2 separate regions of the Homo sapiens genome follow, and region 2 is linked to region 1. The links come from fine-mapping of genetic effects on gene expression. A gene starts in region 1. The other region holds a variant in brackets. All regions are shown on one strand. Distances are between the middles of the regions.

Evidence for each region. PIP is the estimated chance that this variant, and not a neighbour inherited with it, causes the effect.
Region 2: its variant is fine-mapped to the expression of DTX3L in fibroblasts (GTEx, PIP above 0.99).

What each region holds. Positions count from the first base shown.
Region 1 is chr3:122,557,700-122,573,046 of GRCh38, reverse strand. DTX3L (deltex E3 ubiquitin ligase 3L) reads right to left here and starts at 8,709. Exons shown (of 5, transcript NM_138287.3): 1 at 8,434-8,709; 2 at 6,977-7,188; 3 at 3,023-4,558; 4 at 2,375-2,592; 5 at 1-1,369. The coding sequence starts at 8,620. The coding sequence ends at 1,300. PARP9 (poly(ADP-ribose) polymerase family member 9) reads left to right here and starts at 8,747. Exons shown (of 11, transcript NM_001146105.2): 1 at 8,747-8,802; 2 at 13,338-13,441; 3 at 14,580-14,613. The coding sequence starts at 13,427. LOC105374071 (a long non-coding RNA gene) reads right to left here. Exons shown (of 5, transcript XR_001740869.2): 5 at 13,077-13,157. RefSeq lists an enhancer at 8,702-8,821 and a silencer at 8,862-8,961.
Region 2 is chr3:123,470,237-123,485,583 of GRCh38, reverse strand. No RefSeq gene overlaps it. Among named protein-coding and RNA genes, the nearest start is that of ADCY5, 29 kb to the right of the region's middle. RefSeq lists a silencer at 4,968-5,067. The variant A/G (reference allele first, on the strand shown) is at 7,354.

The DNA.
Region 1 (15,347 bases):
TGAGGCTTTCACCGGATGCCCAACCTTCTAGCCAGCAAAATTGTGAGCCAAACAAACCTTTTTCTTTATCAATTACCCAGTCTCAGGTGTTCTTTTATAGCAACACAAACAGACTAAGACAGGCACCAACTATATACTAGGCTCTTGGTCATTAAAAATGATAGTCTTGTGTGGGTGTGGTGGCTCATGCCTGTAATTCCAGCACTTTGGGAGGCCAAGGCAGGAGGATCATTTGAGCTCAGGAGTTTGAAACCAGCCTGGCCAACATGGCAAAACCCCGTCTCTACTAAAAATACAAAAAATTAGCCGGGTGTGGAGGCACACACCTGTAATCCCAGCTACTCAGGAGGCTGAGGCAGGAGAATCGCTTGAACCCGGGAAGTGGAGGTTGCAGTGAGCCAAGATCACACCACTGCATTCCAGCCTGGGTGACAGAGTGAGACTCCATCTCAAATAATAATAATAATAGTCTTATTCCATTTATTACCAATGCTTGCCCAATCTCTACTCATGGCCACTTTTCTTACCATGAGTAAGAAAGCAGAATGTGGGTCTTTAATTTTTCACAACCAACCCTTTTTCCTCCCATTTACAATAGAATTTCACTTTCACAGGTAGAGATGAAGGGGAAAACACACAAAAAACCAAAGAACCACCCCAGAGATGGCAATGAAAAAGAGATCAATTGGCAGCCGAGAGTCCAACTGAAGGACACAGAAGATTATTTCGGACCCACCTCTAACCCCAGTGATGACACAAGAGGGATGACACCTTTGCAGCAGATTTTACACAGATTTGGGGGGCTTTTGTCTTCCATAAAAAGTATCACTCCAGGGCTGGGCGCGGTGGCTCACGCCTATAATCCCAACACTTTGGAAGGCTGAGGCGGGCGGATCACGAGGTCAGGAGATCGAGACCATCCTGGCTAACACAGTGAAACCCTGTCTCTACTAAAAATACAAAAACAAAAATTAGCCGGGCATGGTGGTGGGCGCCTGTAGTCCCAGCTACTCGGGAGGCTGAGGTAGGAGAATGGCATGAACCTGGGAGGCGGAGCTTGCAGTGAGCCGAGATCATGCCACTGCACTCCAGCGCGAGCGACAGAGCAGACTCCGTCTCAAAAAAAAAAGTATCACTCCAGAAATGACAGACTAGCAGATTGTTATTCTTATACAAACCATTTCTTGAGAAGAAAAATTTCAAAGTCCTTTCTACATAAGGATTTAGACTGGCATTAAATCAGCCTCCTAAAATATATTTTTTTGAAAGCTTGATTTAAGACATCTTCCAGCAGTTGTCTTACTCAATTCCTTTGGCTTTCAGCTCCTCTTTGACACGTTTCAGGTAAGAAGGATCAGGATAGCCATACCTGAAGAAACAAAAATTCCTTTAGTGTCACCACAAATTGTTCGGATATGTGCAATAGATATCCAGCATTTAAGGATTTAATTAATATCCAGTGTTGCAAACATTCACAAGTAATCCTGAAGGTGGATGACGTATCATGACTTTTAAATTCGCAGATGCGAGTCATTTCGCTAGCGAGTGAGCCTAGCTGTCTGGCCAGCATCTGCCTTTCAAGCTGGCTTCTACCCTGCCAACTACAAAGTATTAATATGATGTATTTATTACATTTCGCATCAAAGGGCAGGGGGTTTGAGAATCCAAGATGAATAGTAATACGTTGATTTACTTTGAGGCTTCATGTCTATGTTAATTCTTAAAATTTTTCAGTTTATGGTAAGTAGTGACTCTCCTAAAAATATAATAATATACTGTGTTTTAGGGGGGCATCGTAATCACATGCTAGTAGGATTTTCAAATTTAAGGTTTTGGAAAAGTCTCAGGGTATATATTTTTTCTTTAGTGCCAAGGGTCTGAGGAATCCTATTTGGGTTTCATAAAGAACAATTGGATTTCGTATAATACAGTTTCTACCAATAGTCTCCTCACAACTTAGACTTTTTCTAGAATATTATTGGCCAAGTGATTTCAGGTTCTCTGTGGACTGGTGGGGGAAGGGGTGAAAAAGAAAGGTGACCTTAAAAGGAAGCAAAGTGACATTCCGAGCATCTAGCCTTCAGATAGACACAACGCCTCAAATTAAATCAGCTTATATAGTATTCATCTCGGATTCAAAAGCCCCCTGTCCTTTGGTGCAAAATTTAAATAACTCCATAGTACTTTATAGCTGGCAGGGTAGAAGTTGATGGGGACCAATCTTTCTGTCTTTGAGATTACCATCCCCGATCAGCAGCTCTCAAAACACCAATTCCACTGCTATAGAGTCTACTTATATCCACATCCAGAAATTGCCGTATTTCATAATCCCTATACTCTGTTGAGCAGCCATTACATCCCAAAAGGATCTCACATTTCTGGTCCTCCAAACCGGGATGTTTTGTGGTGAATATCATTCCAAGTGATGACATCTGAGACTCCTAATACGCGAGAGTACCCCACTGTAAAAATCAGCTTTTGGTCAAAGGCCCTATAAAGCAGTTTCAAAACCTTCCTTCCTTCCTTATTATCAGGCAAGTATGCAGTTCGCTGTATTCCAGGGTATCTCTTTCCTGGGTTTGGGTGTTCTTCCTGTGTGAGAACAAGAAAATGTCATGTGAAAAGAGTGCCCTGTCTAATTTTTACTATAGGTATAGATGTGTTCATTTGTAGATAAAGCAAATCAAAAGCAAGAAAGGTATTGAAGTTATGCTCATATTCCCAATAACTCATATTTCTCCTCTTTCCTTGAATTCATGCTGGAAACACTGTCCACCTTCCTGATACCCCCATCTCAAGATATAATCTCCACCCACCCTTTCTCTGTCTTAAGAAATAGACACAAAAGGTATTTGAATTACCAGCAAACATTGTGACCTTTACCACTATTTCAGTCCCTTGCACATGACCCTGGAGATAATTCCTTGGGAAATCTATTGTCTAATAGGCAACAGGACAGTCTCTTTTGCCCTGGTAATCGTAGCATAGTGGCAAGAAACCCATGGACTTGAGAAATACTTACTGTTTGTATGCCTGCTTTCATAGAATAAGTAATCACAATGGTGCCAAAGGACTCATAACCTGGAAGTGAGTCTCTTGAAACAGTGAAAACCATGCTTCCCTCTGGCTGATTTCCTTTCTGAATACCATAGGAAGTCTGGCATGTGGGACAGATTGGCTTATATGACATGGCTTTGTTGATACAAGGGGCGCAGAATTCATGCTTGCACTTTGGTAGCACTTTTTTGTTACTAATGGTGTCCATACAGATGACACAGATGCCCTTTTCCTTCTTGTCCAGTTCTGAGGCCTCAGAACTCACAGAGCCCTTGAGTGGCGGAGAAGCTGCTTTGGAATCATCGCTATCAATGTCCATCGGTGTTTCATGACCCTCTTTCAATTTCTTTCCAGCCAATGAAGACATTCCTCCTCCTTTTAGAACATACTGCTTCGCCTTTGCAAGGTGATTTGGCAAACCAGTCAAAGTCATTGACTCTTGATTTAGCACAAAGTGTACATTTGGATGTCTTTTTCTAAAGTCATCAGCAAACTTGGTCTGATGTAAGTGCTTTCTCTCCTTGCCCAAAGACTTCAGTAAAAGAACTTCTCTCATCAACTGACATGAGGCATGTTGAAAGGCATCGATGAAACTTGCATAAGCATGCACAGATAGATCTACCTGCCTGTCCTTGGATTCAAACAGAATGCAGGTTTTCTGACCTTTCTCAGAAACCTTGCTGCAAATGTCATACCTTTTTTCGATCTCTGATATCTCCTGTAGTAATTCAGTTTCTAAAAGTTTATAGTGGGCACTATCAACCTCAATTACATTCATCATGTAATTGGCAGCAAATAGTTTCACAGGTATCTTGACAAAAGCTTCAGAGATTTTTTGTTTGGCAGCTGAAATGTCATCTTGGGTCCCAAGGAGAGTTAATTCGCCTCCTTTCTCCTTTATAAGGAGCTTTGTAAACTGGTGATTCAATTCCTGTTTGAATTTATTTGCCTGCTTACTGTCTGCTAAAGAGACACATTCTTGCTTCAGAGGTTCTGTGTTCTTCTGAAATTCACTAGCAAAAGACTCACGAGCTGCTTCCAGGTCACCTGATCGACTTGAGGTGAAATCTAAACAGACCATATTTGGAGAACTCTCCTGGATTTCAATGTTTACACCAAATCTTTTCTCTATTGAGTTGATTTTATCAGGACAGATATATTTAAAGTATTCAAAGTAAGGCAAGGGAACTTCAAAATAGTTGCTTTTTTGTTCTGCCTTGGTTTCTGGTTCAGAAGGAGAAATGCAGCTGTCCCTCTCCTGCTGACTGAGTGGCTTCCTCTCTGTCATTGAAGGGGAAAATTGTTGTTTCTGCTCACTTTCCAGGAACTGCTCACTCAAAAATTGATGTATTCTTTCAATGTCTTGGAAGTCACCACACACCTTCTCAATTCCATCGTGACCTTCCATTTTTCTGATACTAGGGCACAGTGTGGTTATGTATGCCCTCTGCTCTTTGGAGAACAGGTTACAGTTCAGGTCAGCTGTTACAGTAAGAAAGATCTGAAATTTTAAAAGGAACAGGAACAAATAAAACCTCTCAGCATGCAGGCCTACCATCTTCTCTTCAGGAGAATGCATAGAGACTAGAGAAACAACCACTACATCTTTCCCAAGTGGGGGCAACTTCTTTCAAATCCTATTTATTTATTTATTTATTTATTTATTTATTTATTTATTTCAAGATGGAGTTTCACTCTTGTTACCCAGGCTGGAGTGCAATGGCGCGATCTCAGCTCACTGCAACCTCCGCCTCCCGGGTTCAAGCAATTCTCCTGCCTCAGCCTCCTGAGTAGCTGGGATTATAGGCATGTGCCACCACGCCCGGCTAATTTTGTATCTTTAGTAGAGACGAGGTTTCTCCATGTTGGTCAGGCTAGCCTGGAACTCCTGACCTCAGGTGATCCACCCACCTCAGCCTCCCAAAGTGCTGGGATTACAGACATGTGCCACCGTGCCTGGTCTCAAATCCTTTTTAGAGGATACAGCACGCTACATCCCAGAGGTTCTCAGCCCTGTCTGCATATAAGACTCACCTGGCGAATTCAGGGAAAAACAAACCAGCCAAAGCCCAAGCACATCCCCAGAGATTCTGATGTTAACTAATCTGCAGTGGAGCCTGGGCATGAGCATTTCTAAAAGCTCCATGGCCAAGAGATCCGTGTTCTACAACTGCCACTAGCTGTTTGATCTTGGGAACAGCAGTCAAGGGAAGGCACCTGTGCTCTCTGGGCAAGTTGTTGTGGCCCTCACAAAAGTTTGTGAACTTGGAAGGGAGCCATAAAACTGAGGGCAATGGCTTTTCCTATTACTATTTTTTCTCTTCTTCACTCTTCCTCCTTTATTCTTGTTTCAACTAAACACTCGACTGCATGCAAAGTTGTGGACCCTTCTAAACCCTGGCCTTTAGAAGCTCAAATATAAGACACGCCAGGTTAAGATAAAAAGGACAGAGACCAATTGACTGTAATATAAAAGCAAAATTCCTAATGTTTTGTTCCTTCTCAAGGACTTTGCATGTTAAGATCCTTCCTCTAGATCTTCAAAATGTTTCCTGAATCCAGCCATTTCTCACACCTCCATCAAGGCCACCAAAGTGCATGCCATTATCATCTTTCACCTGGCGCACTGCAACCCCTCCTAACCAGGCTCTAACTCTCCATTCTATCCCCTTTCTACGTTCAGTTTTCCAACAGCAGCCAGAGTGACCCTTTAGAAATATAAACCAGATCGCCCTCTCCCCTGGCTCAAAACTATCTGATGAATCCCCTAACATTTTAAGTTAAAAATCCAAAATCCTTACCTTCAGCCCCAAAGGCCTGTCTTCTGGGTACCTTCCCGAGTTCCTAGCACCTCTCTCCATTGCTCACTGCCCTCCCCACCACACTGGCTTCCTTAAAGCTTCTGGGCCTCAAAATGTCAGCTCTTGGGGACTTTGCACCTATGCTTCCCTCTAGGACACTTTCCGCCCAGAAATCCACTTGGCTAGAGATGTCACCTCACTTGAGGTTTTTCCAGACATCCTATTTTAAATGGTGGTTCTGTCACTGTCTGTCACTTATTCTTCTTCCTAGCAGGTATGACTGGCAGACATTTTATTATATATCTATTGTTTACTAATATTGTCTGTTTCTCTCTCTAGAAGGTGCCGTCCCTGGAAGCCGAGTCTGCCATGTTCCTGGCTGCCTCCCCAGCTCCTATAACAGTGCCTGGAACACAGTAGGCAGTGGATATCTATTGTTGAATGAATCTTGTCATCATTCAAGTTTCAGGCCAAACATCACCTCCTCAGTCAAGTTGTCTCTGATTTCTGGTTAGAAGTAGCACCAGGCCAGGTGCAGTAATTCATGACTGTAATCCCAGCACTTTGGGAGGCCAAGGCGGGCAGATCGCTTGAGCCCAGGAATTTGAGAACAGCCTGGGCAACATAGTGAGACTCTGTTTCTACAAAAAAAAAAAAAATTGGCTGGGTGTAGTGGCGCCTATAGTCCTAGCTACTCAGGAGACTGAGGTGAGAGGATCCCTTGAGCCCAGGAGGTCAACTCTGCAGTGAGCCATGATTGTGCCACTGTACTCCAGCCTGGGCGATAAAGTGAGACTCTGTCTTGGGGGGAAAAAAAGAAGTAACACCACCCCCATCTTCCCCTTGCTTGCCCTGGCGCTGTTTCTCTCCAAATAAATAAAATGGTTTTATTTATTTTGTTTACTTGCCTACTGTCTTTCTGTGCATGACCTGGCCCCCAGTATAAGCTGCCTGAGAGCAGGGGCCTTGTCTGTTATATTCATCTCTGTGTCCAGTGCCTAAAACAGTGCCTGGCTCCCATGTACGTGCCCAGCACATGGGTGTTGGATCAATAATACATGAGGCTGGTGACTGGAGAGGAGGCGCAGGCACAGCCAGCTCCTTCTTTCAATACTCACCTTTTGGAGACAGGAATCCACAGCATTAGGAATATGTCCTTCATGTTGATGCATATCACCAGACGGTGTTTCTGCTTGTGATTGTGTCAGTGAAGAAATTTGAGGTCTCGTGTTCTTCTTTATTGAATTTTCAGTGGGTACCAGGAAAATGGGCACAGGTTTTTCGTCAACAAGTATTTGGTGCTCTCCTTTTTTCAACACTCTCTCCTTAGCTTCAGTGGAGACATTAAACACACACATATACACACATAAAAATGGGAGAGATTTCAAGTAATCCTCTCATTCCTGTGTCTGTACTCTGCCCCAGCACCTCCCAGTAAGGCTGCTCCCTGCATCCTGGAATGGTGGGTTGGCGATGGAGAAAGTCGGGGAGCTATTAAGAGCTCTAAAGTGTGCGGATTAAGTTTTACTATAGAAGTGAAAGCTTAATGACAATGGAACATTGTCCACCGATTAAACATCATGTTTCTAAAACTGTCTCCAGTCTCCCCTTTCCTTCTTCCTTCTTTCCCTCCCTCCCTCCCTTCCTTCCTTCTTTTTTTTTTTTTTTTTTTTTTTAGACGGAGTCTCACTCTGTCACCCAGGCTGGAGTGCAATGGTAGGACCTCGTCTCACTGCAACCTCTCTGCCTCCCGAGTTCCAGCGATTCTCCTGCCTCAGCCTCCAGAGTAGCTTGGATTACAGGTGCGCACCACCATGCCCGGGTAATTTTTGTATTATTAGTAGAGACGGAATTTCCCCATGTTGGCCAGGCTGGTCTCGAACTCCTGGCCTCAGGTGATCCACCAACCTCGGCCTCCAAAGTGCTAGGATTACAGGCGTGAGCCACCGCACCCGGCCCAGTCTCCCATTTCAATACTCATTATACAGGTAAGTGACAACAGCAGGAATCAAAAGTGCAGACTCCGAATTTTGTAAATATACATGTGTTTGCTGGCATTCATAAAAAAAGGCAGGAAGGAAATACACCAAATGGTCACATTGTTTATCTTCAGGTTGTTTTCTTTTTTACTCTTTTATTTCTATAGTGAGCATATATCACTTTTGTAATCCTCAAAAACACAAAATGGAACATCCTTTTGTTCATGGATGGAACAATGGAACCATTATTTAAAACATAAAAGTGGAATCCCTGAATGACAAGGACAGCAGCTGGCAGGCATCTGGGGGAAGGAAGATGACAGCTGAGAAATTAAGTTAGAATGAGGATATGGAAAGCATCCACACTAAGGCGCCGTCAGCCAGACCCGCACCAGGCACATGTGAGGCCCCATCCTCCACCGAGTGTTCACTGTCTCAGTGAGTCTCTTGGCAGTAGGGCCCCGTCCCTGTCCGCCACCGCACAGTGACATACTTTCTCCCGCCCTCTCCCCTAGGTCAGCTGGAACTGGGTCCGCCTGGAAACCCGGGGGCCGGGCCCCCAGAGGGCTTTCGCAGCCTGGCCGCCCGAAGCTCACCTGCCCTTTCACTGAACTCCACCCGGAAGGTGCCCGGGGCTTCGTGTTCCTGGGTGCTGACCGTGCACTCCCCGCCGCCCGAGGACTTAGAGCTCTGGAAGTAGCTCTCCAGCTTCCTTCGTACTCGGGGGCCGGACTTGTACACCCGCACGAGGAGCGGGGACGGCGGGCGCAGGTGGGAGGCCATGGCTCTGCGCGTCGGGAGGGCGCGGGGGCTCCGGGAGGCAGCTGGGCGGTAAAGGCGCGGCCCGCCCTGCGGACTGGGCGCAAAGTTTCAGTTTCGCTTCCCTGGAGGTCCCTCCCTGTTCCCGGCAGAGCCGCTTCCCCCTCCTCCCTGTGCTGTCTGCACCGAGGAGAGCGGCCTGCCGGGTGAGTAGGTCCGGTGCCTCTGGGCCCTCGGGGTCCCCTCTCCTGCAGGCTCGAGGTGGGCGGGGAGAAGGGGGACGGGCGCGGACCCGGGTCCCAGGGCCAGGCCTCCCTTGTGAGTAGACTATGCAAAGAAAGTAAGTTTCTCCTGTGTTTCTTATTCTTTGTAACTCTTACTGCTGTTACCACTATTATTTGATCCTAAAAAGTAATTCACATTCTGAATCCATGTTAAACTTACCCATTTTTGAAAATTTGAATGTGTTCATCTGGTAATTGTGACCTGTTACCCCTTCCCTCCCTCCAACTCTACCCTTTAGACGGGCTTCTGCGGGCTTTTCTCCTCCATTGCTTGATTTAACCAACAGCACTGAATTGTTTCTTGCTGCCCAAAGAGCAGAGCAAGGCCCTGATGTCAAGGGCTGGTGAGGGGAGGCGGACCTGTGAACCAAGGAGCAAAACTTCTCCAAGGCCTCCAAGGGGAAGTTTCAAGCAGAATCTTAATAAATTGAGTGTGGCGGCGAGATGGGGAGGACAGGATTGGGGGGAAAAGCACCTGAGGCTTAGGGACCACTGTGGTCTGAAGCACAGAGTGGGCCTGGGGCCTGGGAGGAGAGGAGATGGGTGAGGGGATGAAGGAGGGAGAGCCTACCTAGATGGGCACTGTCCAGCAGAAATACAATGGGAGCCAGTAGGTTCATTCTAAAATTTTTGCAGCCATATTTTTTAAAGGATAAAGAAACAGATGAAATTAATTTTAATGATTTTTAGGAAATTTTTAAAGGATAAAGAAACAGATGAAATTAACTGTAATGATGTTATTTAGCTTGACATATCCAAAACTTAATCATTTCAGCATGTAATGAGATTTTTACATTCTTTTTATCATACCACGTCTTTGCAACCCAGTGTTTTTCTTATACTTACATCACATCTCGATTCAGACTGGCCACATGTAGCCTCAGTAGCTATGTGAGGCTGATAGTCCACCCTGGACAGGACATATTTAGATGGTGAAAAGCCTTGAAGAGCAGTGAAGATGACCTGAAGGGCTTTAAGCAGGGAAAGCAAGAAAATGACTTGCCAGATTTGCATTTTAGAAATATGGTGCTGACAACCGTGTGGAGGACACATTTACAAGCAGGGATGAGTGGCGGCAGAGAGGCCTGAGATAAGGTTTTTGCACATGGCTGGTAAGACTGGAAATGGGCCCGTCTTTACTGTGAACAATTTGGCAATACTGTCAGAATTACAACTGCATATACTTTTTGGTTCTGGAGTTCCATTTCTAGGAATTTGTCCCATTGATATATTAGCCCCTGTGTGAAGTGACCTGTGTACAAAGATGTTCTTTACAGCCTTGTTTACAATAGCAAAAGATAGGGAACTCTTTAATGCCCATAAATAGGGGGACTAGCAGTTTAATAATAATAGTATATCTATACAATGGAATACAATGGGCAGTAGGAAAAATGAAAAAGCTCTCTATGTGCTAACATGAAAAGATCTCTAGGATACATTATGTGGGAAAAATAAGATGCAGAAGTGTGTGTATAAGCTACTACCTTTCGTGTAAAAAATGCCACTGGAAGAATACAGGAGAAGCGCTGATTGACTCTGGACAGGGAATTTAGCAGCGGAGACAGGAGGAAACCTTTTACATTTTCTAAATTTGAACCATGTAAATGTAATACCTATTCAAACAATAAAATGTCAAACTAGGTACATTTAAATCTTTGAAAAGAGTATATTGATGGCTGGGCGCGGTGGCTCACGCCTGTAATCCCAGCACTTTGGGAGGCCAAGGCAGGCGGATCATGAGGTCAGGAGATCGAGACCATCCTGGCTAACATGGTGAAACCCCGTCTCTACTAAAAAAAATACAAAAAAAAAAAAAATTAGCCAGGCGTGGTGGTGGGCGCCTGTAGTCCCAGCTACTAGGGAGGCTGAGGCAGCAGAATGGCGTGAACCCGGGAGGCGGAGCTTCCAATGAGCCAAGATCGCGCCACAGCCTGGGCGACAGAGTAAGACTCCGTCTCAAAAAGAAAAGAAAAGAAAAGAAAAGAAAAGAAAAGAAAAGAAAAGAAAAGAGTATATTGCCACAGCTCAGGCAAAAGTTGCTGAGACTCTGAAGTGAGGCAGTGTCAGTGGGCGAGGAAGGAAGGGGCATATTTGAAAGTGATTTAGTTTGTCAGGTCCCAGATATGAGACAAAAAAGACTCAGGGAAAGTTCCTAGATTTCTGATTTGAGTACGTAAATGGTATTATCATTTACTGAGCTGTAGAATCCAGGAGATAAAGTATGGATTTGGTGGGGGTGGGATGGAGGATTGGGGACCAGGAGATAAGAGGTCTACTTTTGCAGAGGCTAATTTGAGGGGACTGTGAGACCTCCAGGTGGAGTTGAAAAATGGGGCTCAGGAGAGCCATGGCCTAGAACTGCAGATATAAGAGTCATATTTGCAATTGGTGAGTTGAAGCCATGGAAATGGATGAGATCACTCCTGGGGAGTATGCAGAATGAGATGAAAAACGCCTTAGACAGAATCCTGGGGCAAACAATTAAGAGGGAGATGGTGGAAGTGAACGCAGGGAAAAGGCCTGTAAAGGCAAAGTGAAGGGTAATAGAAGAACCAAGGGAAGATGGCATAGGAGAAGCCAGGAAAGCAGAATTTCAGGAATCAAAGAGTGAAATACTATAGAAAGTGGTCCAGTAAAGATGGATAGAAGATAATCCATTGGCATTAACCACATGAGGGATTCTGATGAGCAGTTTCTCTTCTTTTTTTTGAGACAGGGTCTCATTCCTCTTGCCCAGGCTGGAGTGCAGTGGCACAATCACAGCTCACTACAGCCTGAACTTCCCACCAAGTGATCCTCCCATCTCAGCCTCCCAAGTAGCTGGGACTATAGGCATGCACCAACATGGCCAGCTAACTTTTTGTATTTTTAGTAGAGATGAGGTCTTGCCATGTTGCCCAGGTTGGTCTCGAACTCCTGAGCTCAAGCAATCTGCCTGCCTCTGCCTCCCAAAGTGCTGTGGTTACAGGTGTGAGCCGCCATGCCTGGCCACTGGCAGTTTCAAAAGGGTGCTGGGAATGAGGCAGGGAGCCAGGTTATAGTAGGCTGAGTGGGCAGGTGGACAGAAGGAGAGTCCACTACTCATTCCAGAAGTTTGGCTGCTTATGAAGAGAAGGAAACACAGTAGGAACCAGTGATGGAAAGTTGGGAAGGCTTTTCTGTTTTTAAAATGGAAGAAATGGAATGCTTAGGGCACTATGCTCCTTGTTTGGCTATCCATAGGCCTGTAAAACTTGGCCTGAAGACAGAAACAGGTGCAACATTTAAAGCAAAAGCCCATGGCCAAAGCAGATGAAGTCATCCTTCTTTTTTGAAAACAGCAGTGCCCTCTGGAGGCAAAAAATGCATCTTGTCTTTGCATTTTAGAATGCAAAGGATTGTACTAGACCTGCTGCTTTCCCTTGATGAGTAAGAATAGTGCTCTGATGCTGTAGATGGTTGTACAAAATGTTTCTATTGCAAAGACATTAGAAATCATTTCGACCAGGCGCGGTCGCTCACGCCTGTAATCCCAGCACTTTGGGAGGCCGAGACGGGTAGATCACGAGGTCAGGAGATTGAGACCGTGCTGGCTAACACGGTGAAGCCTCATCTCTACTAAAAATACAAAAAATTAGCTGGGCGTGGTGGCGGGCGCCTGTAGTCCCAGCTACTCAGGAGGCTGAGGCAGGAGAATGGCGTGAACCCAGGAGGCGGAGCTTGCAGTGAGCCAAGATCGAGCCACTGCATTCCTGGGGGACAGAGTGAGACTCCAACTCAAAAAACAAAAAAACAAACAAAAAAACAAACAAAGAAATCATTTCGAGGCCTAAATATAGCAACAAGTGTGGGCAACTGTATCTTTAAGCATTTTCATCATCAGTCTTCTAAAAATTCATAATCTTTAATTCCTACCTATTAGATGGAAAATCATAACAAAGTATTTTTCCCAGATTTTCTGACTTTTAACCAGATATACCCCTATCATTAGGTCAAGGATGTTTATCACAAATTCAATAATACACCCCCCTCACAGGCTCTAGTGGCATTTCCTCTTTCTTCAAACGCTCTCCAGGGGGCTTCACTCACTCATAAGCTCGGTCTTCTTTACTGTTCTTTGAATGCTGTTCTCAGTCTCACCACTTTGTTATCACCCTCTTCTTCTAAATATGTAAAAACCTCCTGCATCCTTCATGACCAGGCTCTAGTCTCAACTCCTCCATATAGCTTTTCCTGTTCCAGGTCGTAGAGCATTTTCCCTTCTCTGAACTGCCATTATGATTTCCACTGGAACCTCTCTTGGAAAGGGTAGAAGGCAAACAGTAACAACAACAGCAAAACAATGTGTACATCGTTATCAAGGAAATTAAGAACTCATCAAGATCAGAAATCATGTTCAGTCCTCCTACAGTATATTCTTACCGAATTTCCTAAGATTCTGGCTAATGTTTATTGCATCTTTTCTAATTCATTCCTAGAAGTGGGCCACCATATCTGGAAACTACAGTCTATGCTTTGAAGCGCAAAAGGGAATAAACATTTAAAGACTCCCCCGGGGACCTGGAGGATGGACTTTTCCATGGTAAAAAGCATAAATGTGTATACGTCATGAACCTTGATCAGCACATGAATACTTCTTTATATAACAGCAAGAAATCTGGGGTGTTCACCAACAGTTGACATCCTCATCTGCTTTTAATAGCTCAATAAAGTTTTCTCCTTTCTCCCTTCTTGAGAAATGGGGAATCAAGAATATGCTAATCTAATAAATAGTGTCAACTTGAAGCTGGATGATTTTTCAGAATCATTTTAATTCTCAGCTCATTTAGTGATTCTGCTTTTTCGGGTTGGGGTAAGGAGAGTAATAGAGGATGAATGAAAAGAAGGGAATAGAGAAAGATCAGATTAGAAGTCACTTACTAAACTTGAAAATTCCACATTAAGGTTTGTACCATGACAAAGGCAATTAAAAGTGGATCCTTGCTGGTGGATGAGAGACAGAGCTGATGAGGCTCATGTCCCCAGGTCTTCTGTCTAGAGAAACCCCATGAGCTTTTGGAGATTGGAGTCTATCTGAGAGTTTGGGGTCATTTTGGTCTGTGACTTTTGGGCCTTTTAAAGTGTTGATCTCTAAACCTCATCTCATTCTGAATTAGAATGAGATGCACTGAGATGCATTGGCGGTGGCTGGCGCCTATAATCCCAGTTACTACAGAGGCTGAAGCCAGGAGGATCACTTGAAATCAGTAGTTCGAGACCAGCCTGGTCAACATAGCAAGACTCCGCTCATCTCTAAAAAAGTAAAAACAATTAGCTGGGCATGGTGGTGCATGCCTGTAGTCCCAGCTATTCAGGAGACTGAGATGGGAGGATTGCTTCAGCCCAGGAGTTCAAGGCTGCAGTGAACTGTGATTGCACCACTGCACTCCAGCCTGGGTGACAGAGTGAAACCTTGTCTCGAAAAACAATAAAATTAAATTTAAAAAAAGAAATGCATCGGCCCCTAGGGAAATGACATAGGGCCAATGTTTGCTGGCACATTTAGTATTTTAAGTGTTTCGGGCATGCAGATTTAAAAAAACACATGCTTCCTGCCCTCCCAAACACAGTGCTTTGAGCAGGATTTCCATTGCATTGTGTTTACTAGGGTGTATTGGTTATCAGTAAGCTGTAGTCATTCCACTTCCATTTTTTAAGAAAGCCATTCTCATTTTTCACAGGTGGCCGGAGCAGCAGCTTACAATGAAAAATCAGGTAGGATTACCTCGCTCTCACTCTTGTTTCAGAAAGTCTTTGCTCAGATCTTTCCTCAGTGGAGAAAGGGGAATACAGAAGAATGTCTCCCCTACAAGTGCTCAGGTGCGTGACTGCAGACCCTTGTGGGGACCCCCGCACATGCTTCAGAGTTGGTGTGGCACCGACCAGCAGGCATATTCTCTCAAGGCCTACACCATTCCTCTCCTTTGCCCGTAAATGTGAGACTCTTTTAACGACAGCCTATGGCTGAATTGACCAGATGGGGTGGCCAACTGATTGTCTCCTTGCTCAACGAGTACTATACAAGCTAAATAGTTCTGGCCTAATTCCAGGGGTCCCCCATTAAAGATTTTCAACCAAAGCTCAGGCCAATAGGGCCTGACTACCCAATTCCGGCTTCGTTTGGGTAATTGAGGCCACAAGAGGTCTTTCTAGGAGACTCAGATTAGAAATGGGAGTTGAAGCAAAATAAAAGTAATGATCACATTTTATCTATTTTAGGATGCACATTTTTTTTTCACATTTTAACAATACTGAAATAAGGTAGTGTACCTGTTATCAATTGATGGTATGCCCCAGTTTAGTTGGCATTTTTTTCCCTTTCTCAGAGGCATTGTAACAACAATATCTTAGACACCATGAAATACAGTGTCCCAAGCTGGGTCCTCCAGGAAGCAGAATTTGAGATGGAATTAGGAGTGCAAAAAATTCACTGTGAAAGGTAAAGAGAG
Region 2 (15,347 bases), 910 kb before region 1:
AATGAAGCACCCTCCTCTTCCTCTGCCACCAATCTTTTCTTCCTCTTCCTCCTCCTGCCCTCCTCCTGTCTCCCCCACCTCGCTGAATGGCATCCCATCGTCCAGTTGCTCAAGTCAAGAACTTGGGAGTCACTTTTCCTCTTCTGCTCCCTGATTGGCCCCGAGCCCCCTTCATTTTGAATCAGTAGCTAAATCCTGTTGATTCTGTCTGCTGAGGATGGACTGAATCTATCCAATCTATCAACTTCCCTCTTCCACTGCCTCCTTTCTTGTCCACGCCACCATCATCTCTCAGCTGGATGGCAGCTGAAGCCTCCTAACCAGCCTCTCACCTTCCACTTCTGGTCTCCCGAATTCATTCTCCATACAGCAGCCAGAATCAACTTTTAAAAATGCAAGATGTAGCCAAGCGTGATGGCTCACGCCTGTAATCCCAGCACTTTGGGAGGCCAACGCGAGCGCATCACTTGAGGTCAGGAGTTTGAGACCAGCCTGGCCAATGTGGTAAAACCCCATTTCTACTAAAAATACAAAAATTAGCCAGACATGGTGGCACATGCCCATAGTCCCAGCTACTCAGGAGGCTGAGGCAGGAGAATTGCTTGAACCCGGGAAGCAGAGGTTGCAGTGAGCAGAGATTGCGCCATCGCACTCCAGTCTGGGCGTCACAGCGAGACTCCATCTCAAAATTTAAAAAAACCCAAATGAACAAAACGAAATGTGAGATCATGTTTTCTCCACTTAAAAGCCTTCAGTAAGTGTGTTGTTCTTGGGGTAAAGTCCAGACTCCCAAACATGAGCTAAGACCTTCATCGACCTGTGCCTGCCTGCCTGTGTCCCTAGCCCCTCCACTCCCCATCCTGAGAAAGCCTATCAGGCTCTCAGGGCGCTTGGCTGTCACATCCTGGCTTTTGTACACCACATTCCCTCCACTTGGAAGACTCATTCCCCCTCCACCTTGCTAATTCATTTCCATCCTTCAGGTGTGACTGGGGCCCCCTTCTCCAGGAAATACCTGCCCCAGGTCCCAGAACTGGCTATGGTGCTCCTCCTAGATGCTCCCACAGTGCCAGGGTTGTCAAAACAAATAAGCCCAGCTAAATTTGAATTTCAGACAACAATGAAGAATTTTTCAGCATAAGTGTGTGTCCAGCAACATGTTTAATAATTTGCCAGGTGCAGTGACTCACACCTGTAATCCCAGCACTTTGGGAGGCTGAGGTAGGAGGATCACTTAAGCTCAGGAGTTCAAGACCAGCCTGGGCAACATAGTGAGACCATGACTCTACGAAAACATAATAATTTTCTTAAAAACACTTTAGGCCAGGCTCGGTGGCTCACGCCTGTAATCCCAGCACTTTGGGAGGCCAAGGTGGGCGGATCACAAGGTCAGGAGATCGAGACCATCCTGGCTAACATGGCGAAACCCCATCTCTACTAAAAAAATACAAAAAATTAGCTGGGTGTGGTGACGGGTGCCTGTAGTCCCAGCTACTCGGGAGGCTGAGGCAGGAGAATGGCGTGAACCTGGAACCTGGGAGGCGGAGCTTGCAGTGAGCTGAGATCACGCCACTGCACTCCAGCCTGGGCGACAGAGCAAGACTCCGTCTCAAAAAAAAAAAAAAAAAACACTTTAAATAATTTGCTAACTTGCTCTGTGACAATGAGCATGTTTCCCCATCACAGTCCTCGTTGCTCTGTGACAATGAGCATGCTTCCCCATCACAGTCCTCGTTGCCGCCTCTTACCTGTTTGCCCACCAAGGACGGAAAGCTCCCCAAGGGTAAGAACTTCATCAGGCTTGCTTCCCACTGTATTCTCAGGGCCCAGCCTTTCACTGGGGTTTGGGAGATGTCAGGAAGCTCATAAACAGATGATTAAATCAGGTAGTTTAACGGACTGTGAAGAAACCTAGAAAGGCAATGTGTTAGAAAGTGTGGTCAGATGAAGTCTCTCTGAGGAGTGATTCAGGATTTGAACCAGATCTCACTGACCCCAAAGCCCACAACTGTTTCCCTCCACCAGGGTCAAGCCTCATTTGTGGCAGAATATCATGTGAGTTGCCCACCAAGGCAGCCTCTCAAAGGTTGCAGAAGCTCCTTAGAGACTGGAGGCCTCTCTGAGCCCTTGGGGCTCCTGACAAGCACGGTGAATGTGATAAGACGTCGAGGTGCTGGGAGGACCCCACCTCCTGGAGCCCAGGCTGCAGCACCATTCCATGGCTGCTGTAGTCAGAGCACTGGGCATCTGAGCTCCAAACTTTCCTGACTTTCCTGGGACCCAGCATCACCCTCGGGTCCCGGTCATTAGCAGAGCTGCTGGCAGCTCGGAGTCTGCTCACAAGATTCTCACAGGCCTCCAGGTCCTTATCTGCAGCATCCTGGGACCAAGCCCCCTCCCCAGGGCTGGGCTGGGTGGGCCATGCCAGGGGCACCTCTGCCCACAGCCTAAAGCCTACATTGCCTATGTTTCTTTGGGTCATTGCTGCCTCTTCTTCCCAGCATTAGGGCAGCTCATCAAGCCCCAGCTTTCCCTGAAAGCCCTCCTGGGCCCGGCAGCACACACTGACATTGCCTGCCCACAGCTGGGGCTGCTTTACCTCATGCCCAAAGTAAGCCGAGGAGCAGCCCCACCCGCTCCACGGAAGACTGCCCCTACCCGCTACAGCACCACAAGCCCCCAGCGCACATCGTACCTGAGGGAACTATGCCATCTCAGGCGTGGAAGGGGCCTCAGAATGGCGTTGTCACCTCCAGTCTCCACTTGTACAGAGTTGGAAACTGATGCCAAGAGGGATAGGGGCCACTTGGCTGGGCACGGTGGCTCACGCCTGTAATCCCAGCACTTTGGGAGGTCGAGGTGGGTGGATCACAAGGTTAGGAGATCAAGACCATCCTGGCTAACATGGTGAAACCCCATCTCTACTAAAAATACAAAAATTAGCCGGGCATGGTGGCAGATGCATGTAGTCCCAGCTACTTGGGAGGCTGAGGCAGAAGAATGGCTTGAACCCGGGAGGCAGAGCTTGCAGTGAGCTGAGATTGCGCCACTGTACTCCAGCCTGGGCAACAGAGGGATAGGAGCCGCTCCTCATCCCCCCACCCCACCCTACAGCCTGCAGGATGGTGTGCAGGGCATTTCAGGGTAAGCCAAGTAGGTAACTTCCTACTCCTCCAGGGACCTGAGCTTGCTGCCAAGGCAGGCAGAGTCAGGGCTGCCCACATTGTGATCTCAGGTGGGGATTTTCCGGGAGATTGTGGATTTAGGGGGGACCCTCCCAGGCCCTGAGAAGGATGTCGTGAATACTGCCGCGAATAAGCTTGGAGGACACAACCAGGGGGCCGCTGTTTCAGGCAGCCCGGGGAGGACCGAGGGCAACAGAAAGAGGGAGGTCCACCAGGAGTTTCCAGTAACCCCTCTGGAAGCTTGTGGTTGCACAGCTTAATCTGGGTCTGTGAGGGTTTTCCCAAGTTTCCTACATGTATTTACCCAAGAACTGATATCTGTGGGCACCTTCCAGAAGGCCCAGTTCCTGCCTCAGCCACTCTCCCCTAGTCAGAGCAGCATCCTGAGGCGCAGCCTACAGATACGGAGTCCAAGGGCTTGCCCAGCCTCCTGTCAGGAATGTCAATCCCAAGCCAGGTGGCTGTTTGGCTTGCCTGGTATATTTAGAAAAGTCAGGCTCCCTGCTCCCTTACAAAGTGTGAACTGCACCTATCACATGGAAATGTGATTCACTTCTCAGCAGCCCAGCTGAGCGGCTTCCACCGCCCCCAAGCATCCCTCCTCCCTGCCTCCCTCAGCCCTCTCTGCACGGGTATCCTCATATCCTCCAGTGGAGCTGAAGGCCCTGCCCCACTGTGACAGGGAAGGGCTGGTGGAAGGCACCTCAGTGGTCAAAGGCAAATGTCCCTTTTGCATTTTCTGGTAGCAATGCATTGGTCTTACTCTGTTTCCTTCTCTCTGGAAATCTGGATGCTTTCTTCCTCAGAGTCCTCAATTCTCACCGCCCTGACACACACACACTCTGCTCCTCCTGGGGTCTTGAGAAGCCCTGGATTGACTTGCAATCTGACCATGAGCCCCTCATGTAAACAAGTGGCATAAAGCAGAGGTTGTATCCTGGCAGCCAGTAGGCTTTTCGTTTTTGTTTTTGTTTTTCTTAAAATGATATTTTAAATTGTTTTGGTTACCAGCGTTTTAAAATTATGAGAGTTCACATTTTAAAAAATGAATTTCCTGCTTCTCTTGAAAGAAGATGTGGCACTCCGGCAAGCCTGGGCCTGGTTCCTGCACGCCTCGGCACACCCGCGGGGACTGAGTGGAGGCTGTCCCCTTTCTACAAGTGGGTTCTCCAGGTCACCTCACCAGGCCTGTGCATTCATTTGAGTTCCCTGCCTGGGCCTTGGAGATTTCTGGATTTAGAACTCCACATACCTGGGACCTTCCATTCCAGCAGAGATAGAGCAGAGACACCCCTAGTACCATAGGGCCTCATTTCTCCTTTTCCTCCCTCGGTTTCTCACTCTTCACTCTTCAGTCTTCTGAGTTATCTCCCTTCTTCTCGCACCCCTCTTGAGTACCCTGTATCATTGACTTATGTGGTTCTATTTTTGCCCAATACCAATCTCCCAGCCCTTCCTTGCCTGGTTCCTTGGAGACAGAGCCTTGTGATGCTTTGGAGTTGGGCGTGAGTTCGATTCCTGCTCCACTTTTTGTCTTCACCACTTTCCTGAGCCTCTTTCACGTAAAAAATAGAGAGAAAATGATACCTCGTTTGCAAGGTTGCCCCGTTCCCTAGCTCATGAAGTGGTCAAAGACAGCTGAGTTTGTTTCAGTGGAGAGCAGAGACTGTGGCCTCCTCTCCTGGCCCTGCAGAAACCTCAGCCACTTCCCCATTCTGTGGTCCCAGGACATAGCACGTGTGCACAGGCTACCCCCAGTGGGGCCCAGAGGTGCCAATGCCTCTGACACTTGAGGACAGGAACTCCCCTAAGTGACAAGCCTCATCGGGCTGCTAGACACTAGTCAGGCCCAGGCTGGGCTCCACCCAGGAGTCACCCAGGATCTCAGGACATGCTTCCCCCTCCTTCCCCAAAATCCCCAAAGCCAGGTGTCTGCCCCTGCCCAGGACCACAGGGAATACTGCTGATACTGCTCAGCATGTACTGTGCCAAGCACTGTTTATATTTTTCATATGCGTTAACTCCTGAAATTATCCCAATAATTCTACAATTTCAACACTGTTAGACTCCCATTTTACAGAGGAAGAAACAGGAATCGTTGAGGAAAGGTTAAATAACTGGCGCAAAATCACCCAGCAGGTGAGTGGTAGAGCCTGGCTATAAAGGGAGGCTGTGGAGTTCCAGAACTTACACCTTTCATGACTGTGCTAATTATACCGCTTTTACTGTAGCTCCCAGACCACGGTGCCCCGTGCTGAGCATTCAGCCCCTCTCTCGCCATCTTGAATCACTTCAGCTGCCGCAGCCCAGCCTGGCCCCCAAGCTGGTTACCCATGAGCACCGCGTCATGGCAGAGCCCAAACAACACCCGCAATAGGCAAATACCTGGAGATAGAACTCTCGTTTTGAAGTCAATCTTTTGATCACACAGAGAAAGTAAGTGCTCAACAATGAAATCCTCTTCCCTTTGTTGTCACAAACATAAAGCAACCCATTCAAGTGCCCACAAAATGATAAAATCCCCGCATCTCTATTCCTCATTTTTGCCGTCTTGCTCAGTGCTAGCCTTGAGGGCCTGATACAGCTCCTTCTGCACCTGCAGGCTGGGTCCCTTTCCCTTGGGACTGGCGGGCTCCTTCAGCCCCTCCTAGGGACACTGACACCAACCTGACGCTCACAAAAAGAATTCTCAGAACCTGACACAATGGAGCCGTGTTGTTTTCTTGCTTAGACCCTGGCAGAAATGTAATAGCTACCCTGGGAGGGGAAGGCATGCCAGGCAGGGACCAGTAGATGGAGAATCTAAGCAAAGAAGGGAGGAAATCCGCTTGCATTCTGCCCTGACAGGAGTCCAGTCCTCCTCAGCCCTACAAAGGCCCTGAGCTGGGCAGCTGGCCCTCCGTGGGGGTAATTCCCACTGAGAGGTTGGTGGAGCTGCTCAGCACACTCACGGGCTTCTAGACCTGCACCTGCGTGTCCCTGTGGTCCATTAGTTCCCAAGCCCAGGCGCTCAGGGGCCCAGGAAACATGATATGATTCTTTTCCACAGGCTTCCAAACCTTGCCCGCCCTCATCCTCAGGTTCTCCAGGTCCTGGCTGCTGCTCTCACCTCCCATGAGAGCACCAAGTCTCCTTCCTGCTACCGCAAGACTTGACCTCCCTAGAAAAAAACAGCCAGTCCCCAGCCGTCTCTTGAGAATCAGGACAAAGAAGCGAAAACACAAAAACATGGTGGAGACGCAGAAACGTGCCCTTTGCCCAAGTCCCGCCCCCTGGCCTGCCCCAGCACTGTCCACCTGAAAGCCCTGCCTGCCCCAGCACTGTCCACCTGAAAGCCCTGCCTGCCCCAGCACTGTCCACCTGAAAGCCCTGCCTGCCCCAGCACTGTCCACCTGAAAGCCCTGCCTGCCCCAGCACTGTCCACCTGAAAGCCCTGCCTGCCCCAGCACTGTCCACCTGAAAGCCCTGCCTGCCCCAGCACTGTCCACCTGAAAGCCCTGCCTGCCCCAGCACTGTCCACCTGAAAGCCCTGCCTGCCCCAGCACTGTCCACCTGAAAGCCCTGCCTGCCCCAGCACTGTCCACCTGAAAGCCCTGCCTGCCCCAGCACTGTCCACCTGAAAGCCCTGCCTGCCCCAGCACTGTCCACCTGAAAGCCCTGCCTGCCCCAGCACTGTCCACCTGAAAGCCCTGCCTGCCCCAGCACTGTCCACCTGAAAGCTCTGCCTGCTCCAGCACCGTCCATCTGAATAGTCCAGTGGCACTGGAGGTGTGGACCAGCCTGCAAGGGAGTCTCTATTCTTCCCGACAGGACAGGCAGCCAAGCTTGCTGCTGGCCTAAAGCCCTGAGACTCCTCCCCAAAGCAGGAGCCCAGCCTTTTCCTGTCTCTCCACTTAGGGGGCTCCCTTAGCCCTAGGACTGCCCCTACTGAGTGACTCTTGAAGTCAAACTGTTGCTGGTGGCCCAGGCACACACTAGTGGGAACAGCCTGCTGTTCAGGGAAAGGATCATCAGCTCATAGGGTTCTTGTTTGTAGTGCATTAAAGCAAGTCTGGGACCTGGTTCACTGGGTCATTGATTTTTACCCTGGGGAAAGGGGGTAGCCTTACCCTTCGTTGATATGGAACTGAAAGACCTCTGTTGTGGGGAGGGAGAAAAAGAGATGGTG[A/G]TCATTCACAGTGATTCAAGACAATGATTCTCCAGAGGAGAGCTTGTTCTACGGCTTCTGAAACTAAGCTACAGGCAGGGCCATGCTACCCCTGAAGGCTTTAGGGGGAACCCTTGCTTGCCACTTCCAGCCTCTGGAGACTCCAGGTTTCCTTTGCTTCCAGCAGCTTCACTCCAGTGTCTGCCCCTCCCTTCACATGGCATTCACCCCTGTGTCTCTGTGCCTTAAATCCCCCCTCTCCTTTCTTCTCTCTCATGGGAACGCCAGTCATTGCATTTAGGGCCTACCCTAAATCAAAATTATCTCATCAAGAAATGAGTATGTAATCTCATGATAAGATCTTAATATCTGAAAATGAGATCTCCATCCTTAATTATATTTGCAGGCCTTATTTCCAAATAAAGTCACAGTCACAGGGACCAGGGGTCAGGACCTAGACACATCTTTTTGGTGGGAACAAAACTCAACTCACTACACCCTGTTTCCTCCTCTAAAAATGAAGACAATAACATCTGCCTTACCGCGTGATTTCAAAGGTTACATAGGTCAGCACACATACGGTTCTTAGAACAGCACCTGGTGCCTCATAAGTGCTCAATAAATGTGAGCTATTATTACAATTCCTCTGCCACCTGCCAAACTCCTCCTCACCCTTCAAGATGCAACTCAATGAAACTTGCTCTGAGCTGTCTCCCAACCCCTTTCTTCTCACCCAAGTGAAAGCGCTGCCTGCACATCTGCTTCCGCGGCCTTTGTAGACGCCCCTCTAGCATGGGCGTCGGGATGAGCTGTATAGAGGCTGTTTCCTCTCCCAGCCTATTGGCTCCTTTCGATCAAGAACTGGATCTTATTCATCTCTCTCTCTCTCTCTCTCTTTTAAAATAACCCTTTTTGAGTCCTACAAAAATATCTTGGTCACGAGCAATAATATGTACGTGTATAGAGACATCACAGAGCAAGAATATTTCATCATCATACACCCAAATGTTTCACAGTTTTCTCCTGATAATCTAACTGGTATCCTTCACCTTTGTCCCTCCAGCACCTGCTGCAAAGCCTGGCACATCGGGGAGGAGCACACAGAGTGCTTGATCATTGGAGGAGGAAGGCAGCCTGAGGTCAGAGCAGACACAAAGGGGCAGCTGAATGGAGCCAAAGGACACCCCCACGGTGGGGGGATGTGGGCAGTTTCTGAGGTTGATGAGAGGATGAAAGGAATGGCCTGGGGCATAGGGGCAACTGAGGCACGACAGATGAGTGTCAGCATTGAGTGTGCTTGAATGCTCCCTGGCATCAGGTAAACTCTCAGCCCTGATCCATGGCCAGTCTAGGGGCACTAAGAAGACAAAAAGAGGAAGGCTGTGACCATGGCCTGGCTGTGTGAAAGGCAAATCAGCTACCTTTGTTTTTATCGGCTGTTTATTATTTATGACTAATTACCATGCAGCAAAAAGCGGCTACATATATAATTACACGGCAGATTGATTTTGTTATTAGCTTCTTTTAATTATGCTGCTGATCTCTGTTTCCTAAATCTTCACTACCCAAAAAACAAACACAAAAACAAAACAGCCAAAAATAGAAGTCCTACTGCCCGCCTCTGCTTTCACAGCTGGGCAAGGTAGGTGGGATCCTGGTTCAGTCTCCACAATGGGATCAGTTCCTCAGCCAGAGCCGCTACTGTGGCTGTTGTTAAGAACTATGTTGGGCTGGGCATTGTGGCTCACGTCTGTAATCCTAACACTTTGGGAGGCTGAGGCGGGCGGATCACCTAAGGTCAGGAGTTTGAGACCAGCCTGGCCAACATGGTGAAACCCTGTCTCTACTAAAAATACAAAAAATTAGCCGGGCATGGTGGTGCATACCCATAATCCCAGCTACCTGGGAGGCTAAGGCAGGAGAATCGCTGGAACCCGGGAGGCGGAGGCTGCAGTGAACCGACATCACGCCACTGCACTCCAGCCTGGGTGACAGAGCAAGACTCCATCTCAAAAAAAAAAAAAAAAAAAAAAAAAAAAAAGGAACTATGTTGTACTGAGCACTTGCCGTGCTGGCTGTCTCACAGCACAGCAACCCTGCTAATATCCAATGAACATGCCCGCTCTGTAGAGGCGCCTCTAAAAGCCTCGGATGGAGTCATTCCCTTGGCTGGGGAAGGGGTCCTGGGCTCCAAAGGTGGGAGAAGCTCCAAAGTTCAAAGCCCCTCCAAGTGTCCAAGTTCACTCCCATGGGGTCCATCCTGCCCCCACTCGGGCCAGCGGCTTGCTCATCTGTGAAACCCACTTGTTTTTCACCCCTGCCTTCCTTACCCTCTCTGGTTCTTTGTATCCTGTCCCTGGTCCCTGCAGTGACAACCATGTGAAAATGGACTCCTCGGGTTCCAGCCAAAATAAGAAGACAGGAGGAGGCAGGGAGCCACAGAGAAAAGCCAGGCAGGTCTGCAGCAGGTTTAGAGGAGGTGGAGGGAGCTAATCCAGATAGTGAGACAACCAAGGGAGTGAACTCATTGATCTGGAACTTGTAAACGAGCTAAACCCACAAGGCATGGTCAGCATGTGTGTGCATCAGAGAAGCCATCTCTGGGGCGCCCCGATAACTTCCTTCATTGGAGAGGGCTCCTCACTCGCTGCAGGGATCCTTCCCTCTCTCCCTGGTTAATTCTCACCTGTCTTTCCGGTTTTCTCTCAAACATCACCTCTCCGGGAAGCCTATCCCAGGAGCCCTCTGTGTCCGACTCCCCTGGAAATGTTCTGTTGCTCTATGTTTTTCCCTCTGAGTCCTGGCACAGGCATCCCTAAGTGACTGTGGCTAGTAGTTCCGGTTCTGCCTCATTTCCTCTCAGAAGGGAAGCTCCGAGAAGGCAGCGATTCTTGACTTGTTCAGCGCTGTCTCCCGAGCACGCGCATCGCGTTAGGCACGTAGTAGGCACTCAGCAAACATTTGTCAAGGGCACAACTCGAGTTGGAAATATGGGAGGAGTAAGTCCAGGTGGAAGGAAAGAAATGTGAAAAGTAGACTTTGCCTTGTGGCTTGCAAGGCCTTTCCCCTTTTAGGAATTGCTCGGCCCACTTAGGAATTTCACAGGAGCATGGAATCCTCCAGCCACGGGCAATTTCCTCACTGCGTCCAGACTCTTCTGCTGTTCTCCTCAAAGAGCCCTGCAAACGAAAACTCCTCAGCTTTCCTTCCACGTTGCTTGTGACAGAGACTTATGCTGTTTGCTGTTAGGAAGTTCTTTTCTGAGTTTGACTTTATACTTTGCATCCCATTTTCAATCCCTTTTCCCTCTTTTGAACGCAGACTCACAGTATCAGAACTTCACGGGAGCTTACAGATGATCTAAGAAACTTTCGAGCCTTTGTTTCCTAAGCAGGAAAATCCCTTTTCCCAGTTAGAGAATCTCATCTCTAAAATGTGAGGCTGATGAAAGGGAAACAGTTCTGATGGATGTAACAGGTTGGGAGCCCTTTCAGGGCACCCCCAGGAGCTTCAAGGAACCCAGTGTGAAAACCACTGATCAGGTCCAAGCCTGATACTTAGTGGATGAGAAAATTCAAGAAGGGAAGTGATCTGTCCCAGCCAGATTACAACTCACCTTTGCCATCCTTAAGTTCACAGCCCACATCCACCTCAGTGAAAATGATAAAGTTTGGGGTGCTCTGCAGATGAACTTTTTGAATAAGTATGTTCCAGTGTCATTTGGGGGCTACGTGTTTTTGTTTTCCCTTTTGTGATATTTCATACTTCAATATGCCAAAAAAACTCAACAAGAAGTTGGCAAAAGAAGTTATACAAGCATGTTTCACAAATATCCAAATCTTTGAATAAAGATGGTCATCACAATTTCCCAAACATTTCCACATAGGGCTGCAGAGTAAGGCCCATCTTTTTTGTGTTATTTACTCATTTATTTCTTTTGGAGCACATTTGAAGCACAAACCATGCCATTGCAAGAAAGATCCAACTGGAACGAGAACTGGCGGGGACTCGTTTGTGCTGAGACTCATTAAGTTTCCCAGCCCCAGGGATTGGGGATTTTCATGGAATCAATTTCCTTCTTGGGACTGTTAACATAATCCCTTCACTGGAGAGTCGAGGGTCCTGCCAGCAGCCAGCACAGTGGGTCTGCTGTGGGCCTCTGAAGGAGAACATTCCCAAGGACCAAGAGGAAGGGCCAAGCCTCTTAGATGTCCCTCGATTCACAAGCTCTTCATGCCACACCCTCACCCTGCCCTCCACCTTCAGCCAGCTCCCAGACTCCAGGGCAGGGAAATGGGATGTCTCCGATGAGCAGGATCCATAGCAGTGCCCTGTAACAGCTATTACAGATCACTCATCTGCCACGTGCCGCCCTTCAAACATCAGTCAATGGGTTGGGTGCAGTGGCTCACGTCTGTAATCCCAGCACTTTGGGAGGCTGAGGTGGGAGGATTGCTTGAGGCTGGGATTTAGAGGCCAGCCTGGGTAACAAAGCAGGACAACATCTCTAAAAATAAAAATTAAAAAATTAAAAAAAAATCTGTTGACGTATCATGTTGTGGATGCCATTTTTTAATTAATTAATTAATTTATTTATTTTTTGAGATGGTGTCTCGCTGTGTCACCCAGGCTGAATGCAGTGGCGTGATCTCAGTTCACTGCAACCTCCAGCCTCCAGATTCAAGCAATTCTCCTGCCTCAGCCTTCTGAGTAGCTGGGATTACAGATGCCTGCCACCATGCCTGGCTAATTTTTGTATTTATTTATTTTTTTTAGTAGAGATGGGTTTTCACCATGTTGGCCAGGCTGGTCTCAAACTCCTGACCTCAGGTGATCCACTTACCTCAGCCTCCCAAACTGCTGGGATTACAGGTGTGAGTCACTGCACCTGGCCCATTTATTAAGCCTCTAGTATTTGCCAGGCACTGGGCCAGTCCATCTAATCCTGACAGCAAGGAATGACAACATTGGTATCTCCATTTTGCAAAGGTGAACACTGATTGTCAGAGGAGCTTGAGCCAAGTATTATTTCACTTAATGTTTGCATACATTAGGTTGGGCAAGGTGGCTCACGCCTGTAATCCCAGCACTTTGGGAGGCCAAGCCAGGCAGATCACGAGGTCAGAAGATCGAGACCATCCTGGCCAACATGATGAAACCCCATCTCTACTAAAAATACAAAAATTGGCCGGGCATGGTGGCACATGCCTGTAATCCCAGCTACTCGGGAGGCTGAGGAAGGAGAATCGCTTGAACCAGAGAGTCGGAGGTTGTGGTGAGCCGAGATTGCGCCACTGCACTCCAGCCTGGTGACAGAGCAAGACACTCCACCTCAAAAAAAAAAAAAAAAAAAAGTTTGCATACGTCATTTCATCTAATACTAATAATGGCTGTTATTGCTCGAAGACCTTCTTCTTCATGATTGTATACTTGTTTACTCCTCACAATAACCCTATGAAATTAGGTATTATTATCATTTTCATCTTTCATATGAGAAAACTGCGGCCCAGAATGGTTAAGAATCTACTGGGGTTAGGCATCCCTCAGCTTTCTTATCAGTTCAGGGTAGTCTCAATTCAGTCCAAGCAGCATTGACTATGTTTCTTCTGTGCAGGGGAAGCAGTATAGGGGAGTGGTTAAGAGCACGGATGCGGCCGGGCACAGTGGCTCACGCCTGTAATCCCAGTACTTTGGGAGGCCAAGCCGGGTGGATCATTTGAGGTCAGGAGTTCGAGACCAGCCTGGCCAACATGGTGAAATGCTGTCTCTACTACAAACACAAAAAATTAGCTGGGCGTGGTGGTGCACACCTGTAGTCCCAGCTACTCCAGAGGTTGAGGCAGGAGAATCACTTTTATCCAGGAGGCACAGGTTGCAGTGAGCTAAGGTCACTCCAGCCCAGGCAACAAGAGCAAAACTCCATCTCAAAAAAAAAAAATAATAATCATGGACTCTAGTTTGGAGTTCTCAAAGAACTTAAAATAGAACCACCATTCGACCCATCAGCCCTACTACTGGGTATACACCCAAGGGAAAAAAGTTCATTCTATCAAAAAGACACATTCCCCTGTATGCTCACTGTAGCGCCATTCATAATAGCAAAGGCATGGAATCAAGCTAAGTGCTCATCAACTGTAAATTGACAATGACAATGTGGTACATATGCACCATGGAATACCATGCAGCCATAAAAATGAATGAAATCATGTCCTTTGCAGCAACATAGATAGAGCTGGAAGCCATTATCCTAAATGACCTAATGCAAGAATAGAAAACCAATACTGCATGTTCTCACTTATAAGTGAGAACTACACATCGAATACACATGAAAAAGATGGAAGCAATAGCATTGGGGATCACTAGAGAGGGGAGGGAGGAGGCGGATGTGGGCTGAAGAACCACCTGTTGGGTACTATGCTTACTGCCTGGGTGATGAGATCGTTGAGATCCCAAGCCTCAGCATCATGCAGTTTACCCAAGTGACGAAACTGCACGTGTACCCTTTAATCTATAATAAAAGTTGCAATTTTTTAAAAAAATCATGGATGCTGAGGTCAGACATAACTGGCTTCAAATTCCAGCAGGATCAGAGACAGGCCTTGTGAGGACAGACAAGTGTGTTAGCTGTCTACTACTATGTAACAAATTACCCCAGCGTTTGCCTGCTTAAAGCAACCACTTACCATCTCCCAGTTTCTGTGGGTCAGGCAGGGACCTGAGAGCAGCTTAGCTGGGTGGTTCTGGCTCAGGGTCTCTCATGAGGTAACAGTCAAGATGCAGGCCAAGGCTGCAGCCACCTTAAGGCTCAACTAAGAGAGGAACGGGGTCCAAGCTCACTCGTGAGGGTATCGCCATGAGACTGCCTAGCAACACGGCAGAGGGCTTCTCCTGAAGCAAGTGACCCAAGAGAGTGGGAAAGCACCCAGGATGGAGGCCACAGTCTTTGAGTAACAATCTCAGGAGCAGCATCCCACTACCTCTGCCCTGTTCTGCTCAGTAGGAGAGAGTCCACCCTGGACTGGAGGGGGACTATATGAGAGCATGAATACAAGGCGGTGGGATGCCAGGGCCCTCTCAGAGGCTGCCTTCCACAGGTCCCTTAAACTTCTAAGTCTCAGTTCCCTTGTCTGCAAAATGAGACTCAATAGGACCTGCCTCAAAGAGTTGTTTTAAGACCTCAATGAGACAATGTCTATAAAGAAATAAGAGCTGGGCGCAGTGGCTCACACCAGTTATCTTAGCACTTTGGGAGGCTAGGCAGGAGGAGTGCTTGAGCCCAGGAATTCAAGACCAGCCTGGAAAACATAGAGGCCCTATCTCTACAAAAGATTTTCCAAGATTAGCCAGGCATGGTGGCACATGCCTGTGGTCCTAGCTTCTTGGGAGGCTAAGGTGGAAGGATTGCTTGAGCCTGGGAGGTTGAGGCTGCAGTGAGCCATGATTGCACCACTGCACTCCAGCCTGGGTGACAGAGTAAGACCCTGTCTAAAAAAAAAAAAAAAGAAAAAGAAAAGAAAAGAAAAGAAAAGAAATTAGAACAGTGCTCAGCAAATAGTGAGTGTTCAATAAATGTTAGTTGTGGGCCTGGTGCAGTAGCTCACACCTGTAATCCCAGCATTTTGAGAGGCCAAGGAAGGCAGATCACTTGAGGTCAGGGTTCAAGACCAGCCTGGCAAACATGGTAAAACCCCCTCTCTACTAAAAATTAGCCCAGGCATGGTGGCAGGTGCCTGTAATCTCAGCAAACTGGGAGGCTGAGGCAGGAGAATCACTTAAACCTGGGAGGCCAAGGTTGCAGTGAGCTGAGATTGTGCCATTGCACTCCAGCCTGGGTGACAGAGTCAGGCTCTGTCTCAAAATAAATAAATAAATAATTTAATTACTTAATGTCAGTTGCTATCATCACCAATGCTATAAGCTACTTGAGGGCAGGGAGAGTGTGTCTTTCTTGATCTCATCTGTCCATACCTGGCACTTCTTTTCATTCTGCTGATGCCAGGCACTGCCAGTGTCAG